Linked DNA regions of Homo sapiens: region 2 is linked to region 1. Evidence: fine-mapped expression QTL. Tissue or cell type: sigmoid colon. Region 1 holds a variant in brackets; the other region holds the start of a gene. All regions are shown on one strand. Distances are from middle to middle.

Region 1 (7,575 bases):
TGAGCATGGAATGTTTTTTCATTTGTTTGTGTCCTCTCTTATTTCCTTGAGCAGTGCTCTGTAGTTCTCCTTGAAGAGGTCTTTCACACCCCTCGTAAGTTGTATTTTTAGGTATTTTATTCCCTTTGTAGCAATTGTGAATGGGAGTTCACTCATGATTTGGTTCTTTGTTTGTCTGTTATTGGTGTATAGGAATGCTTGTGATTTTTGCACATGGATTTTGTAACCTGAGACTTTGCTGAAGTTGCTTATCAGCTTACAGAGTTTTTGGGCTGAGATGATGGGATTTTCTAAATATACAATCATGTCATCTGCAAACAGAGACAATTTGACTTCCTCTCTTCCTATTTGAATACTTTTTATTTCTTTCTCTTGCCTGATTGCCCTGGCCAGATTTTCCAATACTATGTTTAATAGGAGTGGTGAGAGAGGGCATCCTTGTCTTGTGCCAGTTTTCAAAGGGAATGCTTCCGGCTTTTGCCCATTCAGTATGATACTGGCTGTGGGTTTGTCATAAATAGCTCTTATTATTTTGAGATATGGTCCATCAATACCTAGTTTATTGAGTGTTTTTAGCATGAAGGGGTGTTGAATTTTATCGAAGACCTTTTCTGCATCTATTGAGATAATCATGTGGTTTTTGTCATTGGTTCTGTTTATGTGATGGATTATGTTTATTGATTTGCTTATGTTGAACCAGCCTTGCATCCCAGGAATGAAGCCATCTTGATTGTGGTGGATAAGCTTTAGAACGTGCTGCTGGATTCGGTTTGCCAATATTTTATTGAGGATTTTTGCATCTATATTCATCAGGGATATTGGCCTGAAATTTTCTCTTTTTGTTGTGTCTCTGCCAGGTTTTAGTATCAGGATGATGCTGGCTTCATAACATGAGTTAGGGAGGAGTCCCTCTTTTTCTATTGTTTGGAATAGTTTCAGAAGAAATGGTACCAGCTCCTCTTTGTACCTCTGGTAGAATTCAGCTGTGAATCTCTCTGGTCCTGGGCTTTTTTTGTTGGTAGGTTATTAATTATGCTTCAATTTCAGAACTTGTTATTGGTCTCTTCAGGGATTCAAGTTTTTCCTGGTTGAGGCTTGGGAGGGTGTATGTGTCCAGGAATGTATCCATTACTTCTAGATTTTCTAGTTTATTTGCATAGAGGTGTTTATAGTATTCTCTGATGGTAGTTTGTATTTCTGTGGGATCAGTGGTGATATCCCCGTTATCATTTTTTCTTGTGTCTATTTGATTCATCTCTCTTTTCTTGTTTATTAGCCTGGCTAGCAGTCTATCTATTTTGTTAATTTTTTCAAAAAAGCTAGCTCCTGGATTCATTGATTTTTTTTTGAAGGGTTTTTCATGTCTCTGTCTCCTTCTGTTCTGCTCTGATCTTAGTTATTTCTCGTCTTCTGGTAGCTTTTGAATTTGTTTGTTCTTGCTTCTCTAGTTCTTTTAATTGTGATGTTAGGGTATCGATTTTAGATCTTTCCTGCTTTCTTCTGAGGGCATTTAGTGCTATAAATTTCCCTTTAAGCACTGCTTTAGCTGTGTCCCAGAGATTCTGGTACTTCGTATCTTTGTTCTCATTGGTTTCAAAGAACTTATTTATTTTTGCCTTAATTTCGTTATTTACCCAATAATCATTCAGGAGCAGGTTGTTCAGTTTCCATGTAGTTGTGTGGTTTTGAATGAACTTCTTAATCCTGAGTTCTAATTTGATTGCACTGTGGTCTGAGAGACTGTTATGATTTCCATTCTTTTGCATTTGCTGAGGAGTGTTTTACTTCCAATTATGTGGTCAATTTTAGAATAAGTGCTATTTGGTGCAGAGAAGAATGTATACTCTGTTGATTTGGGGTGGAGAGTTCTGTAGATGTCTATTAGGCCCACTTGGTCCAAAGCTGAGTTCAAGTCCTGAATATCCTTGTTAATTTTCTGTTTTGTTGATCTGTCTAATATTGACAGTGGGGTGTTAAAGTCTCCCACTATTATTGTGTGGGAGTCTAAGTCTCTTTGTAGGTCTCTAAGAACTTGCTTTATGAATCTGGGTTCTCCTGTATTGGGTGCATATATATTTAGGATAATTAGCTCTTCTTGTGCATTGATCCCTTTACCATTATGTAATGCCCTTCTTTTTCTTTTTTGATATTTGTTGGTTTGAAGTCTATTTTATCAGAGACTAGGATTGCAACCACTGCTTTTTTTTTTTTTTTTTTTTTTGCTTTCCATTTGCTTGGTAAATCTTCCTCCATCCCTTTATTTTGAGCCTATGTGTGTCTTTGCACGTGAGATGGGTCTCCTGAATACAGCACACCGATGGGTCTTGACTTTATTCAATTTGCCAGTCTATGTCTTTTAATTGGGGCATTTAATCCATTTACATTTAAAGTTAATATTGTTATGTGTGAATTTGATCCTGTCATTATGATGCTAGCTGGTTATTTTGCGTATTAGTTGATGCAGTTTCTTCATAGTGTTGTGGTCTTTACATTTTGGTATGTTTTTGCAGTGGCTGGTACCAGTTTTTCCTTTCCATATTTAGTGTTTTCTTCAGGAACTCTTGTAAGGCAGCCCTGGTGGTGACAAAATCTCTCAGCATTTGCTTGTCTGTAAAGGATTTTATTTCTCCTTCTCTTATGAAGCTTAGTTTGGCTGGATATGAAATTCTGGGTTGAAAATTCTTTTCTTTAAAAATGTTGAATATGGGCCCCCACTCTGTTCTGGCTTGTAGGGTTTCTGCAGAGAGATCCACTGTTAGTCTGATGGGCTTCCCTTTGTAGGTAACCCGACCTTTCTCTCTGGCTGCCCTAAACATTTTTTCCTGCATTTCAACCTTGGTGAATCTGAGGATTATGTGTCTTTTTTTTTTTTTTTTTTTAAATATATGAGGAGTATCTTTGTGGTGTTCTCTGTATTTCCTGAATTTGAATGTTGACCTGTCTTGCTAGGTTGGGGAAGTTCTCCTGGATAATATCCTGAAGTGTGTTTTCCAGCTTGGTTCCATTCTCCCTGTCACTTTCAGGTACACCAATCAAACGTAGGTTTGGTCTTTTCACATAGTCTCATATTTCTTGGGGGCTTTATTCGTTCCTTTTCATTCTTTTTTCTCTAATCTTGTCTTCATGCTTATTTCATTAAGTTCATCTTCAATGTCTGATATCCTTTCTTCTGCTTGATTGATTTGGCTATTGATACTTGTGTATGCTTCACGAAGTTCTTGTGCTGTGTTTTTCAGTTCCATCAGGTCATTTATGTTCTTTTCTAAACTGGTTATTCTAGTTAGCAGTTCCTGTAACCTTTTATCAAGGTTCTTAGTTTCCTTGCATTTAGTTAGAACATGCTTCTTTAGCTCAGAGGAGTTTGTTATTACCCACCTTCTGAAGCCTACTTCTGTTAATTTGTCAAACTCATTCCCCATCCAGCTTTGTTCCCTTGCTTGTGAGGAGTTTTGATCCTTTGGAGGAGAAGAGGCATTCTGGTTTTTGGAATTTTCAGCCTTTTTGCTTCGGTTTTTCCTCATCTTCATGGCTTTATCTACCTTTGGCCTTTGATGTTGGTGACCTTTGGATGGAGCTTTTGCGTGGACGTCCTTTTTGTTGATGTTGATGCTATTGCTTTCTGTTTGTTAGCTTTCCTTCTAACAGGCCCCTCTTCTGCAGGTCTGCTGGAGTTTGCTGGAGGTCCACTCCAGATCCTGTTTGCCTGGGTATCACCAGTGGAGACTGCAGAACAGCAAAGATTGCTGCCTGCTTCTTCC[T/C]CTGGAAGCTTTGTCCCAGAGGGGCACCCGCCAGATGCCAGCTGGAGCACTCCTGTATAAGGTGTCTGTCAACCCCTGCTGGGAGGTGTCTCCCCGTCAGGAGGCACGGGGGTCAGGGATCCGCTTGAGGATGCAGTCTGTCCCTTAGCAGAGCTCAAGCACTGTGCTGGGAGAACCACTGCTCTCTTCAGAGAGATTTCTCTGTGATTTCTTCACTTCAGAGCTGTGAATCTTCACTTCAGAGCTGGCAGGCAGGAACGTTTAAGTCTGTTGAAGCTGCGCCCACAGTTGCCCCTTCCCCCAGGTTCTCTGTCCCAGGGAGATGGGAATTGTATCTATAAGCCGCTGACTGGGGCTGCTGCCTTTCTTTCAGAGATGCCCTGCCCAGAGAGGAGGAATCTAGAGAGGCAGTCTGGCTACAGTGGCGATGCCACGCCGCAGTGGGTTCCGCATCGTTTGAACTTCCCAGTGGCTTTATTTACATTATAAGGGGAAAACAACCTACTCAAGCCTCCTTAATGGCGGACGCCCCTCCCCACACCAAGCTCAGCATCGCAGGTCGACTTTAGAGTGCTGTGCTGGCAGCGATAATTTCAAGACAGTGAATCTTAGCTTGCTGGACTCCATGGGGGTGGGGTCCACTTAGCACAATCACTCGGCTCCCTGTCTTCAGCCCCCTTTCCATGGGAGTGAACGGTTCTATCTCTCTGGCATTCCAGGCACCACTGGGGTACGAAAAAAACTCCTGCAGCTAGCTCAGTGTCTGCCCAAATTGCCACCCATTTTTGTGCTTGAAACCCAGGGCCCTGGTGGTGTAGGCACCCGAGGGAATCTCCTGGTCGGTGGGTTGCGAAGACAATGGGAAAAGCATAGTATCTGGGCTGGATAGCACTGTCCCTCACGGCACAGTTCCTCACGACTTCCCTTGGCTAGGGAAGGGGGTTCCCTGACTCCTTGTGCTTCCCAGGTAAGGCGACGCCCCACCCTGCTTCTGCTTGCCCTCTGTGGGCTGTACCCACTGTCTAACCAGGCCCAATGAGATGAGGTGGGTACCTCAGTTGGAAATGCAGAAGTCACCCGTCTTCTTGGTCTCGCTGGGAGCTGCAGATCAGAGCTGTTCCTGTTTGGCCATCTTGCCAGCCCCACCCCTGGCCCCCAGCTATTTAGATTTAAACTCATTAAATGAAGCCAACCTAAAAATTGAATTCTGCAGTCACACTTGCCACATTTTAAGTGCTCAATGGCCACCTGGGACTAGTGACAATCGTATTGGACAGTGCAGGTACAGAAAATTTTCACCGATGCAGAATATTCTCTTAGACATGTTGGTCTAGTGGAGGTGGGGTGTGGAGAGTCCAGAAATAGTCATTAAGTGAACAAACAAATATGTAGCTGGGTGCAGTGGCTCATGCCTGTAATCCCAACATTTTGGAGGCCGAGGCAGGAAGATCCTTTGAGCCCAGGTCTTTGAGGCCAGCCTCAGCAATACAGTGAGACCACCACCATCTCTACAAAAAAATAAAAAAATTAGCTGGGCACCTGGTGTTTCAGGTCACACCTGGTGTTTCAGTATGATCTGTAGTCCCAGCTACTTGGGAGGCTGAAAGGGGAGGATCGCTTGAGCCCAGGAAGTCCAGGCTGCAGAAGTCTGTGATCATGTCATTTCACTCTAGCCTGGGTGACAGGGCATGACCCTCTCTCTAAAAAAAAAGAAAAAATTACCCACTCCCCACCAAAGTAGGTAAATAAGATAACTTCAAATGTGGTAGCCATATGAAAAAAAAGAAACAGGGAAATGTGCTGGAGTAGTCGTTTGGTTAGGGTGGTCTGGGTGGGCCTGTGTGAGAAGGCGACGCAGGAGCCAGGACCCGGGGAGGATCTGAATGAATAGCAAGTGCTGGGAGCACTGCAGAAATATAAGAAGGCCAAGCATGGCCCGGAGTAGGGAGCAAGAGGGAGAGAAGCAAGAGATGGGCTTAGGAGCGAGGCGGATGCCCAATCCCGTGGGCTCATGGGGAGGAGCGTGCATTCAACTCTTAAGTGCGAGGAGGACATCGCAGGCTGCCCACGGGAAATTATTATGATCTGATTCACACGTGAAAAGCTCACTCGGGTTCCAGGGTTGATCGCAAATAGGAGGGAGGCACGATCAGAGACAGAGGGACCAGCAGGGAGCTCTAAAGCTGTTCAGGTGGGAGAAATTGAGGCCTTGGGATCACGGAGAAAGGGCAGTAGCTAACCCTAGAGGGAGGCAGTATTCGTGTTGTAGCTCAATTCTGCATCCGAAAATACAGGGGGCAATGATAGCACCTGGTATGTGGTGCCACTGATAAGAGGATGCAGAGAGCTAGTGTCTATAAAGTCGCCAGTATTTTCAGTATGATGGTACGTGGCATCATCTTGTCTAACCCATCTTTGTCTCTCAAAATATTTTCTAGCTCCTTGTCTTGCCTGTTCTAGTCTGGTTTCCACACTGCCACTAGAGTCACCTTCCTCAAAGGCCAATCTGATGTCAGTTCCCTTCAGGGCTCCTGGGGGAACCCAGATGAAACTCCGAGCTTGTTAATACAGCCTAGGAAGCTTCTCACACTCCAGCCCATGTCTCTGTCCAGCATCACCTCTCCCACTCTCTGCCTGGCACTCTGCTCCAGCTATACCAATTGTCCCCTTGGCTCATGCAGTTCCCTTAGCTGGGAATACTTTCCCTCCCCTACTTGGGTGGGTTCTCTCCAGCTGTTTGTCTTTCTAAGCTCAGCTTAGAAATTTTCGCCTCCAAGAAACCGCTTCTGTGTTTCCAAGTCTAGGTCAAGTGCCCTTACATGAGATCCCATGGGACCCTGTGCTTCTCCATAATGTTGAATTACAATTGCCTGTTTACCAGTCTCTTCCATTAAACTGAGGTCTTCACAACAGTAGGAACTATCTCTGTCCAGTTCATGATTGTGCATATCTCAATGCCTAGACTATATCGAGTGCTTAAGATATATTTTGTTTAGGCCAAGTGTGGTGGCTTATGCCTATAATCCCAGCACTTTGGGAGACCAAGGCAGGTGGATCACAAGGTCAGGAGTTCGAGACCAGCCTCACCAAGATGGTGAAACCCCGTCTCTACTAAAAATACAAAAATTAGCCAGGCGCGGTCGTGGGTGCCTGTAATCCCAGCTACTCAGGAGGCTGAGGCAGGAGAATTGCTTGAACCTAGGAGGCAGAGGTTGCAGTGAGCCAAGATCATGCTACTGTGCTCCAGCCTGGACGACAGAGTGAGACTGTCTCAAAAAAAAAAAAAAAAAAAAAAAAAAGGAGCTATTTTGTTTAATGAGTGAGTAAATGAATTCGTAAAAATCATCTATTTATAGCATTTGGTAGACCACTCTCTTTTCCTATGCCCTTCTTTTGCACATTGTTATTATTATTTTTTTCAAACAACCATTATTTAGGCTTCCTAACCTGAATGTGTTAGCTTAGGGTGCCATAAAGAAATACCATATACTTGGGGGCTTAAAAATCAGACATGTATTTTCTCACAGTTCTGGAGGGTGGAAATCTGAGATTAGGGTGCCAGCATGGTCAGGTTCTGGAGCAGTCTCTTTTCCTGGCTTTCAGATGACCATCTTCTCAATGTGTCCTCATAGGGCAGAGAGAAAGAGAGAGAGTTCGCTTTGGTGTCTTCCTTCAAAGGGCACTAATCCCATCATAAGGGCCCCATCCTCATGACCTCATTTAACCCTAATTACCTCCCACAAAACCATTTCCAAATAGCATCACATCGAGAGTAAGAATTTCAACCCATGAATTTTAAGGGGACACAAGCATTCAA
Region 2 (5,000 bases), 670 kb before region 1:
TTCTAGTGGGCATCCCAGTTAAGCCTTTTCCACACTTCTATGAAATAGGCAAACCAGGTATTAATATCCCCATTTTACAGGTGAAGAAACTGTGGCTCTGAGAGGTTAAGAACCGACAACCAGGTCTAACTCTGAGCCTTTGCTGACTCCTCTTCCATCTGACTTTGAAAAGCTGGAGGGCTCAGGGCTCGCCTTTCTGTATCCTTCCCATGCCTTTCTTTACATACTGACTATATAAATGGCTTTCTGTATTACATATATTGACTATATAATGGCTTTCTGTATCCTTCCCATGGCTTTCTTTACATACTGACTATATAATGACAACTCTCAAATTCCTGTTTCCAATTCCTACTCTTTTCTGAATTCCAGATTTGTATGGAGTCTACCTGGATGTCTAATGGACATTTCAGCCCAATACGTTCAAAGAACACCACATCCCACCCCTCCCCTAAACCTTCTCGGTTTCGCATCTCACCATCTTAGAAAACAGCTGCACTACTCACCCAGTTGCTCAGGCCCAAAATCTAGTAAGCATCTTTTATTCTACTGTTTCTCTATACCCATAATGAATCTATCACCAGGTCCTATTGTTCTCTCTGCAAAATATACCCAGACTGTGACCTCTTCATCATGTCCTCCACTAGATACCACACTAGCTTGTGTTGCCTTTGTACCTAGATGATGCACTTGCCTCCCAAACTGGTCTCCCTGCTTCCTCCGCCCTTGCCCCTTACAATCCGTTTGCTACATAGCAGTGTGAGTAATCTTTAAAGGTGTAGAGAAGACAGTATCACTTTTTCTGCTCATAGCCTTCCAAGAGCTTCCCATTACACTCCAAAAAAAATCTAAACTCTTTTCTGTAGCCCTCGAGGCTTAAGCCTTTGCCTTCACCTTCTAGCACTCTCCCCTTGGCTCACTCCACTCCAGCCACTTCTCAAATACACCAAGCTCAGTCCCATCCTCTGCCCAATTCCCTCCCTGTCACATAGCTCGCTTCTTCACTTCCTGTCTCTCTGTTCAAATGCCAAACCTTGAACACCTTGCCTCCCACCGTCCTGCAGTCTACCGTGCTTCACTGTTTGTTCTTCATCTGACATAATATTATTCACTTACTCATTCACTGCTTGTCTTCTCTACTAGAATGTGAGCTCCAGGAAGGGGGCATTTTGCTTGCCTTGTTTACTGCTATACTATAGATGTTCAGTGCTATTTGTTGAATGAATAAGTGCTCCCCAAGAGTTCCTAGCCCTACACCAGCAGAGCAGAGATTTGGCGGGGAGGGGAATATACACCCCTTCCCCCAGCAGCCCCTTACCTGTCTTTGTATTTGGACAAATTCTCTTCCTCCCAGGCAGTGTTTCCACCTCCAAAGTTGTCCCGGATGGTTCTCTCCAGGCCCTGGAAACAGAAAATTAGTAATAGCTAAGTACAGTGCCTGGCACATGCTAGCACTTCACTGTTCTACTGACTAGGAAACTGAGGCACAGAAAGGCAACCTGCCTAGGGCCATACAACTAGTAAGAGACCAAGATGAAACTTAAATCCACGCAGATTTGCATCCCAGAGTTCCCCACTCTAAATCGCTGTGTTCCCCTCTAACGAGGCTGCCGGTGCACCCACCTTGTTAAAGCTGTCAACCAGTCCCCGGCAGGTATGACACGGATGGGGCTGAGGCGGGGGAGAAGACTGGGGAGGTGGAGAGGGCTGGAGCCAGATAGGTCCTGGGAGGTTGAGGAAGAGGCTGAGGCCCCAGAGCATAGCTGGGACTAGGCCCTTCGGGGGCCATGGGGCCATCTTTACCCAGGCTGGGGACCTGCAGATAGAGGGCGTGGAGAGGCTTCACTGAAGGAGTCAGGCCCCACGCGAGAAAGAAAAAGGTCTGTTCTAAGGTGCCGTGGCGCTGGGATCTGCGTTATTACAAGCAAAAGAGGCCAAACTGGGTATTGCAGGGGCTGTGGGGATGGGTGGGGAAAGGCGCATAAGATGCAATTCCAGAAGAGAAATAAGTTATCCTCGCTAGCATGGGGTGGAGAGGAAAGTGGCCTCGCTCCTTGACAAGGGGGCAGAAGTCAGCCTCTTGTCTGAGGGTCTGATAAAGAATATTAGGGGCCGGATCCGCAGAATTAGGGAGAAGAGATCAGATTCCAAGTACTGAAGGAGAGGAGGCCAGAGGGGTTGTCTTGGGGGAGGTGTCCGGAACCCCGGGCTTGGAGGGAGGAGCCCGGATCCGGATATGAAGGGAAGGGATCAGATTCAGGGCCTCGCAGAAGGGCAAAGGCACGGCCCACGAGCCGGCAGAGAAGGATCCAGACCCTCGTAGGCCACGGAGAAGGAAGAAGCGACCGCCCCAGCCCGCGGGCGCCGTGGGCCGTCTCCTCACCGCGTCGCTGCCACAGCCTGCGTAAAACGCACAACCCCCACCCGCGCCGCAGTCCAGGGGGCGGAGCTTGCCGCCCAGCCAATGGCGACGGGCCATGTGCCATTACGTCACCCCACGCCAGCCAACCAGAGGCGGCACCGAGCTGCACCTGTCCGGGCTTTAAAGGGCCGCGGGGCTAGGGAATGACGTTTGCCAGCCCCGCCACTGAAACGGAGACGCGTGTGGGCCACATGGGTAGAAAAACAGCGTCTGCCTTTATTTAAGTCCCGTCCCCCGCCCCAGGTCCCGCGCCTGGTCCCACCCCGCGTCCCGGCGCGGGAGTCCCCGGGGGATGGAAGTAGCTATCCAGGGCTGGCTGAAGGGCCCGGGACACTTGCTCCGCTCTCTCTTGGAGCCGCCCGGAACGCGGGGCGCGAGGCTGCTGCAGGGCCCCCAGGAAGTCTGGCAGTTGGGAGGGCAGTGTGAAGACGGGCACGGTGCGGAAAAGGGCGGGTACGGCGTCCGGGTGGAGCAGCCTGTCGAAGCAGGCCCCCACGTAGCTGCCGGGCGCCCGGCCCTGCAAGAAGTCGGGCAGCACGCAGCTGAGCGAGGCGCGGAAGGCGTCGTGCGGGCCGTGCGCCCCGGGCCCGGACACCCCATCCTGTAGCCACTCGCTGCACAGCGCCACCGCACCGGGAGAGAAGAGCAAGACCACCACGCCGCCCTCCTGCAGGGTCTGGCGCCGCTGCGCGTGAAACCAAGCCACGGGCCCCTGCGCGCTCAGTTCACGACGGCTCCACAGGTCTACGGCCACGCGCAGCGGCAGCTGGCACAGGGCCGACGCCAGGGCGCCCACCAGGCGCTCGAAACCCGAGTCATCGGCTGAGTAGAGGAGCAGAGCCGCGCGGCCCCTGGCGGCCGCTGCCGGAGAAAACAGATGGGGAGGGAAGAGGTGAGCTGGCACAGGCCTGGCTCCCCGGGGGCGGCCCTCCGCCCAGCGCTTGCTCCCACTCACCCCCCGAGCGGACGTCCTGTTTCAAGAGCCTCAGCCACCCTGTTAGGGGAGAGGGGCGGAGGCAGCCAGTGAGCTCGGCCGCCGCTTTCCCTCGGAGAACTCCCACAGCCACTCTGGTCCTCCCCCAGGGGAATGGGGAGCCGGGAAGCGCTCACCTTTCGCGTGATCCTTTTTGAGAAGGAGGATGAGGGAAAGCGCAGCGGCAAAGAGTAGGCAGGCCAGCCACACGAGGGCCCAGCGCTTGTGGATGTCTGGGAGACCCAGAGAAGAAGAGTTAGAAACTTACCCTCCACAGAGAAGAAAAACTGAGACTTAACAGAAATGAATTGGGCCGGGTGCGGTGGCTCATGCCTTTATATAATCCCAGCACTTCGGGAGGCCGAGGCGGGCAGATCACGAGGTCAGGACATCAAGACCATCCTGGCTAACACGGTGAAACCCCGTCTCTACTAAAAATACAAAAAATTAGCCGGGCGTGGTGGCACACGCCTGTAATCCCAGCTACTCGGGAGGCTGAGGCAAGAGAATCGCTTGAACTCGGGAGGCAGAGGTTGCAGTGAGCCGAGATCGCGCCATTGCACTCCAGCCTGGGCGACAGGGTGAGACTCCTCTCAAAACAAAACAAAACAAAACAAAAAACGAAGAAATGATTTGCCCAGAGTCCACAGCACAGTGTCAGAGCCAGTGGATGAATATAGCTCCATCTGTTTAGGGGTCTTTGAATAAGTAATGTCACCCTCTGCCTCAGTTTTCTCCTCTGTAAAGTTGTACCTGTGTCATAGGGTTGGTGTGAGGACTAAATATATTAATACATATAAAGCTTAACACAATGTGTTAATACATACTTAACACAATGCCGAGCATCTTAAGTGCTAAAATGTCAGCTGTTTTTCTCCCCTAAGCTAGGGTTGCTGGGCCCTTGATCTTGCTGTCCTGGGTGTCTGCAACTACCTGGTGTCCCTGCCCTGTCTTTTTTTTTTTTTTTTTACCTCCAATTGATTTGCCTTGAATTGATTCATGACAGCCTCAGAGATCTTTTAAAAATATAAATTTGGGCCAGGTGCGGTGACTCACGACTATAATCCCAGCACTTTGGGAGGCCGACGCGGGCGGATCACGAGGTCAGGAGTTCAAGACCAGCCTGGCCAAGATGGTGAAACCCCATCTCTACTAAAAATACAAAAATTAGCAGGGCATGGTGGCAGGCGCCTATTAATCCCAGCTACCCGGGAGGCTGAGGTAGAGAATTGCTTGAACCCGGGAGGCAGAGGTTGCAGTTAGCCGAGATCGCGCCATTGCACTCCAGCCTGGGCAACAGAGTGAGACTCTGCCTCAAAAATAAATAAAAAAATAAGTATATATATATATATATATATATATATATATATGTGTGTGTGTGTGTGTGAAATATATAAAAATTTGATCGTAGCTCCTGCTGCTCTCAACATAAGATCCAAATCCCCTACATGTCTCCTGCATCTTTATCTCATGACAGAAACCTGCCTGTCCAAGACCCTGTATCTCTACCCCCTTCCCCTAGCTCAGTCTTCAGAGTTTTGCTGGAACCTTCCCCCTGAGCCCCTCACCCCTCACCCCACCCAGGTCAGGTCCACATTGTATGCA

What was found. PIP is the estimated chance that this variant, and not a neighbour inherited with it, causes the effect.
Region 2: it holds the start of CRELD1, and the variant in region 1 is fine-mapped to the expression of CRELD1 in sigmoid colon (GTEx, PIP above 0.99).

The regions. Positions count from the first base shown.
Region 1 is chr3:9,257,181-9,264,755 of GRCh38, reverse strand. SRGAP3-AS4 (SRGAP3 antisense RNA 4) reads right to left here. Exons shown (of 3, transcript NR_146969.1): 3 at 7,249-7,383. It also overlaps a transcript of SRGAP3 not described here. Among named protein-coding and RNA genes, the nearest start is that of SRGAP3-AS4, 11 kb to the right of the region's middle. The variant T/C (reference allele first, on the strand shown) is at 3,759.
Region 2 is chr3:9,931,236-9,936,235 of GRCh38, reverse strand. CRELD1 (CRELD disulfide isomerase 1) reads right to left here and starts at 2,402. Exons shown (of 11, transcript NM_001077415.3): 1 at 2,316-2,402; 2 at 1,624-1,816; 3 at 1,319-1,401. The coding sequence starts at 1,797. It overlaps IL17RC (interleukin 17 receptor C), which reads right to left. Exons shown (of 19, transcript NM_153460.4): 17 at 3,533-3,628; 18 at 3,378-3,416; 19 at 2,615-3,283. The coding sequence ends at 2,643. RefSeq lists an enhancer at 1,991-2,360 and silencers at 2,461-2,790, 3,371-3,430.